Homo sapiens: one gene and its partner. The protein of the gene in region 1 purifies or fractionates together with the protein of each later gene. This does not show direct contact. Each region holds a gene or a part of one and is shown on either strand. Other genes may lie near its edges. The genes, in order: TAMM41 and MIX23.

Evidence for each region.
Region 2: the proteins of TAMM41 (region 1) and MIX23 purify together in Homo sapiens (co-immunoprecipitation; one large-scale study listed by IntAct). This does not show direct contact.

The regions. Positions count from the first base shown.
Region 1 is NC_000003.12:11,789,867-11,792,668, reverse strand, and holds the end of TAMM41 (phosphatidate cytidylyltransferase, mitochondrial isoform a precursor), read left to right. Parts: intron 1-2,087; coding exon 2,088-2,164; 3' UTR 2,165-2,227; downstream 2,228-2,802. UniProt on the Homo sapiens protein: Catalyzes the conversion of phosphatidic acid (PA) to CDP-diacylglycerol (CDP-DAG), an essential intermediate in the synthesis of phosphatidylglycerol, cardiolipin and phosphatidylinositol.
Region 2 is NC_000003.12:122,372,985-122,376,814, reverse strand, and holds part of MIX23 (protein MIX23), read left to right. Parts: intron 1-3,792; exon of another isoform or gene 3,793-3,811; coding exon of another isoform or gene 3,812-3,830.

The DNA of each region.
Region 1 (2,802 bases):
TGCCTATTCCAAAATCATGAAATTTAAGTTCTCCACCTCTGTTGAAATTATAATATTAAGGCAGAAAAGACTCTTCATTCTGATCTGTTGGTTCTTAGCCTTTTGCAAGTCCAGGATCCCTGTGAAAATCTGACTAGAACTCTGGACGCCCTGCACAGAAGTGCACCTACGCACACACACAGTAGATTTTCCTGCAGTGTTAGGGAGTTCACAGACACTCAGACTTAATCTGTGGACCCCTTGTTAGAGAACCCCTCATCTATTCCAACCCAGTCATTTTACAGATAAGGAAATTGAGGCCCAGGGAAAGGCCACTGTTAGTTTGTGGCCCACCTGGAACTAGAGTCCAGGTCTCTTGACTCCGATTCTAGTGCTCTTTCTAACAGATTTCCCTGCTGCAGTCTTTCTGAAAATGTCTCACTGGCAGAACCATGAAAGGGAGAATGTTTTAGTCAAGGGAGATTTCTGTCCACTAGCAGCAACAAAAAAAAAAAATGGCTACATGGTGACACTCTTCTACTTTATGTATTTACCTTAAATGTTTAAGATCCAGGAACTGCTTTTTGAAGTTGAGCTGGGAATTATCATGGCCCATGCATCCTCCTCTAGCTGTGACTCAGTGCCCTGGGGTTGCTATATGAACCTTTCCATGTATAACTACCTGTATTCGGCTTGGTCTTTTGGTTGGTTCTGGCTGGAATTTTAAAAACCACCTTATATAATAAGCTTCTAGTCTCAATGCTGAAGTGGGTGGGGTTTACCAGAGTGGTTGCTCCAGGGAGAAAATTAAAAGGGGTGGAGGCAGGGAAAGGAACTCTGAGTTTGTTGACTAGGTTATGTTGGTTTGCAAGTAGTCAGCTGGTAGACAAACGAAGCCAGAGTGTCTGGAAGTATTCATTAATGATTTTACTGCTCCCCTGCCACTGTCTGCAGTGGTCTTTTCCAAGGCTCTAAGTGGACTAAGCAGTTTACAGGTAACAGGGCCAGATATTTTCAAGCCATCACTCAAACCCCAGTGCTAGGCATGTCCAGAGCGAAACCTGTTACCTTGTCGGCATGCTCACCAAAGTGCACTGCCAGGGGTGTGCACTTTACACTCATAGCACAGATCACAGTTTGTGTCTCACAGTGAAAAAGACTGTTCATATCTTTGGGCCACACCCTGAAACACAAACTGAATGATCCCACCCTCAACACAAAGGAAGTTGAGTCCATAATCGCATCCACAGATAGGATACTCTTAGATCTGACAAATAACACCCATTTATTTTATTCCCTTTTTCTTCTTTCCCCTAAGCCCCCGGAGAGCCTTTCTCCAGTTTCATCACACACTCCTGACTAAGTAGATGGGGGTGCTAGGGGGCCAGCTCTCCGAATGAGGCACATTTGTCTTGTCATTTCAAAAGCTTTCACAGAGCACCTGCTGTGTTCTGGGTCCTGTACTAGGTGACAGGGCCACCTAGGTGAACAGGGCAAGGTCCCTGTCCTCAGGAAGCTCCCAGTCCAGGCAGAGGCGTGGGTGAATCGGCCCACACGTACTGCACAGTGTGTTGAGTGAGCACAGATGCTGTGGGGCCACCCTGTGGGTCCAGGGAAGCACTTCCTAGAGAAGAAATCCAAACAGGGATTCCAAGTCAACGAGGCAGAAAGTGATGGGAACAGCATTTGTCATAGTCAGACAGGTGCCTTTCACAGTGACATAGAGACAGTGAGGTGGGGTTGGAATTTAGGCCTGAGAGAACGGGGACCCAGTGGCATACAGAGTCTTATCCTTGTCCTACCTTTTTGAAAGAGCTAAATTCAGAGGCTGCCAATATGTTCATAACTCAAAAGGATCACTTATCCCAATAACTTAGGAACCGTTGGCATCCATAGCCCTAAATCGGAAAATGCCGAAATCAGAATCATTTCCCCCTACATTGATCACAGTGACCTTTAATCACCTTCAGCTCCCTGGTCTCCTAGAGCCACGGGTCAGCCCCTCACTGCCCTCCTCCAAAGACAAGTCTGCTCAGAATGTCACTGAAACTCTGAGCATCCACTCAACAAGCCTCCATCTTCTTACTTTCTCATCTTTTCTCTTTTAGGCCTGAAGAAGTCAGTGATTTATAGTTCACTAAAACTGCACAAAATGTGGAAAGGGTGGCTGAGGAAAACATCCTGATTTTGCTTGCTTTTATATATGTTATGTGTAGATGAATAAAGTGTTTGATCCTTTTTGACAGAACAGTGTTTGTTACTTTGACCCATTGCTTGAATTCAAAGATACCCTGGTTTGCATAATACTTGGTTTTTTAAATGTATGCATCAGACATTTATCCAGTTGGGACCCAAATATATTAGAGGGCTTAGCATCAGAAGAAAAGAACCCTCTCCATGTACAAAGTCATGTGGGTCCTGCAGAATAGCTTTGCCTGTCCTGCATTCTGTAGGTACGTGAGAGTCAGACATGACAAATTTCTTGTATGCTGTCAACACGTAGCCCAGGAAACTTACAGGGTGTGGAAGCTTGACTTTCTCTGCCTGGCTTGTTATGTCTCTAGTCTCCATCCTGTTCACTTGTTTTTTTTCCAGCAGGGGCTCGCAAGTGTCACGTCAACATTTCCCTGGATCTAGGCTTTTCGTGTGTTTCTTTGTTCTCCACTAAAGTGTATGGCAGTGACTTTTGGGTTAGGAGCCTGGAACAGACACCTTGCAGAGCCTGCCTTATTGTAACAGTTAGGACGTGTTTGGGCAACAGGAAACCCACTGCAGAGTGCCTTGAACAACAAAGGACAGAATCATGTACCCCAGTTTCTCTCC
Region 2 (3,830 bases), about 110 Mb from region 1:
CCCTTTGGAGTCCCCAATGTCTATTCTTTCCATCTTTATGTCTATATGTACCCATTGTTTAGCTACCATTTATAAGCAAGCACATTTGGTATTTGATTTTCTGTTTTGAGTTATTTCACTTAATGGCCTCCAGCTCCATCCATGTTGCTGCAAAGGACATGATTTCATAATTTTTCTTCTTTTTTTGGAGACTTGGAGACAGAGTTTCGTTCTTGTTTCCCAGGCTGGAGTGCAATGGTGCAATCTTGGTTCACTGCAACCTCCACCTCCTGGGTTCAAGCTATTCTCCTGCCTCAGAGTCCCAAATAGTTAGGATTACAGGCACCTACCACCACACCCAGCTATTTTTTTGTATTTTTAGTAGAGATGGGGTTTCACCGTGTTGTCCAAGCTGGTCTTGAACTCCTGACCTCAGGTGATCCACCCACCTCAGCCTCCCAAAGTGCTGGATTACAGACGTGAGCCACCATGCCTGGATGATTTCATTCTTTTCTGTGGCTGCATGGTATTCTATATATATGTGTGTGTATACGTACACCATATTTTCTTTATCCAGTCAACTGTTGATGGACACTTAGCTTGCTGCTGTGAATAGTGCTGTGATCAACATATAAGTACAGGTGTCTTTTTTTTTTTTTTTTTTTTTTTGAGACGGAGTCTCTCTCTGCTGCCCAGGCAGGCTGGAATGCAGTGGCACGATCTCGGCTCACTGCAACCTCTGCCTCCCTTGTTCAAGTGATTTTCCTGCCTCAGCCTCCCCAAGTAGCTGGGATTACAGGTGCGCGCCACCATGCCAGTCTAATTTTTGTATTTTTAGTAGAGATGGGGTTTCACCATGTTGGTCAGGCTGATCTCGAACTCCTGACCTCATGATCCACCCACCTTGGCCTCCCAAAGTCAGGCGTGAGCCACTGCGCCCATCCTCTAGGTGTGTTTTTTATATAATGATTTATTTTCCTTTGGGTAAGTACCCAGTAGTGGGACTGCTGGGTCAAATGGTAGTTCTGTTGTTGGTTCTCTGAGAAGTCTCCACATATTCCATAGAGGTTGTACTAATTTACATTTCTGTCAACAGTGTATAAGCGTTCCCTTTTCTCTGCATGCTTACCAATATCTGTTGCCACAACAAAACTTTAAAAAAAAGTTTTATTATACAAGATTTTAAACATAACACAAAAGAAGGCTGTACCACAAACACTCATGTACCCATCCCCCAACTCCAACAACTAACTAATTCATGGCTACTCTTGTTTCATCTGTTCGCTACTACCACATATCCCACCCTAATCCGATCATTTTGAGGTCATCCCAAATACCATATCATTTTTTTCTGTAAAATTTCTGTCTATATCTCCAAAAGATTACAACTTTCTAACACCATACTATTGCCACATACAGACAATGAACAGTAATCACCAGATAGCCTGAGTCAGAATACAACTCTTGATGTTCCTACTCTTTCCAAGTCTCTTCCTTCCCCAGTCTCCCCCACCATAAGTTAATGGCACTTCCATACAATTAGATGCTTAGGCCCCAAGCCTGGAAGTCATGCTATTTTATTTTCTCGTCCCTGACCACCAATTCAGCAATTTCTGTTAGCTCTATCTTCAAAATATATCCTAAGTCCAACTACCTCTCCTTAATTCTACTGCTACCAGTTTTTTTGTTTGTTTGTTTGTTTTAGACAGAGTCTCGCTGTGTTGCCCAGGCTGGAGTGCAGTGGTGCAATCATGGCTCACCAGTGCCTCAACCTCCTCAGCTCAAGCAATCCTCCTACCTTGCCTCAGCCTCTCAAATTGCTGGGATTACAGGCATGAGCCACCACCCCCAGCCCAGATGTTCCTATCGTTGGTTCAATCATGTCATTTAGATTTTAGCGCAAATGTTACATCCTCAGAAAAGCCTTTTTTGATGTCTATCTGAAGTAGCCCCCAAGCACCACTCAGTCACTCTTCATCTCATCACCTTAGTTTGTTTTCTTTTTCATAGTACTTTTTAGTATCTGAGATTATCTTGTTTATAGGACACTTGTTTAATTTCTATCTCCCCCTTCAGGAATTTTGCTCTGTAAGAGCAAGGACCTCTTTTATTCGCTACTGTAGCCTTGATGTTTTGAATGGTGCCTGACACATGCTAGACATAGGACAGTTGGCCCTCCCATATCTATGGGTTTTACATCCATGGATTCAATCAACCGTGGATCGAAGATAGTTGAAAAAAAAGTTGCATCCATACTGAACATGTACAGACATTTTTCTTGTTATCATACCCTACACAATACAGTGTAACTAACACCTATTTACATAGCATTTATATTGTATTAGATATAAGTAATCTAGAGATTATTTAAAGTATATGGAAGGATGTGCATAGGTTATATACAAATATTGTGCCATTTTATATCAGGGACTTGAGCATCCTTGGATTTTGTTAACCATAGGAGGACCTGGAACCAAACCCCCATGGATACTAAGGGATGACAGTAATTATATGAAGAATGAGTTAATAAATAATGAGCTCTGTGATACTGTCTCTTACTGCTGCATTATTTAAAGACAAATATTGCTGAGGGCTTTCATAACCAAGGAAACCTCTATCCAAAAGGCACAACTTAACCCTTGGCCTCAGAAGATCAGTTCAGTTTAGATAGCGAAAAGGAAGGTTTTGAAAGAGAATTTAAAGAGGCTTTTTTTTTAAAAAAAAAAAAAAAAATAGGCCAGTCATAGGAGGTAAAGTGGCAAGGTAGGTCCCTGTCTTCTACTTACCTATTTTTTTTTTTGGACTTCCCAAATAGTACTGCCATCATTTGTTTGGAATTTACCACTTAAGCACAATACATATATCCTTCACTATGTGTGGTGGTTGCCCAATGAATGCATTGAGATTATTCCTTAAGAATTCCAGTTTACAGAGAATACTATTAAAAAAATAGAAAGATACAGGACGAGAAGATAATGAACTTGGTTTTAGACCTGATATTTGCTAGTGTTTTATTAGTCTGAATTATGAGCCTTCTGCAAGCCGTTTCACTTCTAGATTGAGGTATAGAAAAGGCCATTAAATTCACTAATTAAAAATTAGTGGAATGATAGAACAGAATCTAGACTACAGACTTAGATTGAATGGGCTAAATGGTTTATAATTGGAAACAACCTAAATGTTTGTTAATGAGAAAGTGGCCAAATGAGTTGTGCTTGAACAGGATAGAATACTTAAACGCAACTATTTAAAATATCTTCAGGGCTGGGTGCGGTGGCTTTTGCCTGTAATCCCAGCACTTTGGGAGGCTGAGGCCGGTGGATCGCTTGAGTCCAGGAGTTCAAGACCAGCCTGGGCCATGTGGTGAAACCCTCTCTCTACAAAAATATACAAAAAAATTAGCAAGGTGTATTGCACATGCCTGTGGTTGCAGCTATTTGAGGGGCTGAGGTGGGAGGATCACCTGAGCCCAGGAGGCAGAGGTTACAGTGAGCCAAGATCGCGCCACTGCACTCCAGCCTGAGCAACAGAGTGAGACCCTGTCTCAAAAAAAAAAAAACTTTCAAGACATTTCTAGCAACATTATATTATGCTCATAATATAATGTCTTGAAGCCAGATTTTAAAATGTTACATAGTACCTCAGTTGTATAAAAACATTAATAGGTATGTGTAGAAAAAAGACCAAAGGGACATATTAAAATGTTGATAATGGTTAACTATGGATGATTTTTATTTAAAGTTTTTTTCTAACTTTTCTAAAATGAAAGTAATAATAATAATAATTTTTATTTTAACAAATGGACGAGGAAAGAAAGGAGTTGGTTTCAGTCATGGATTTAAGTTTGGCAA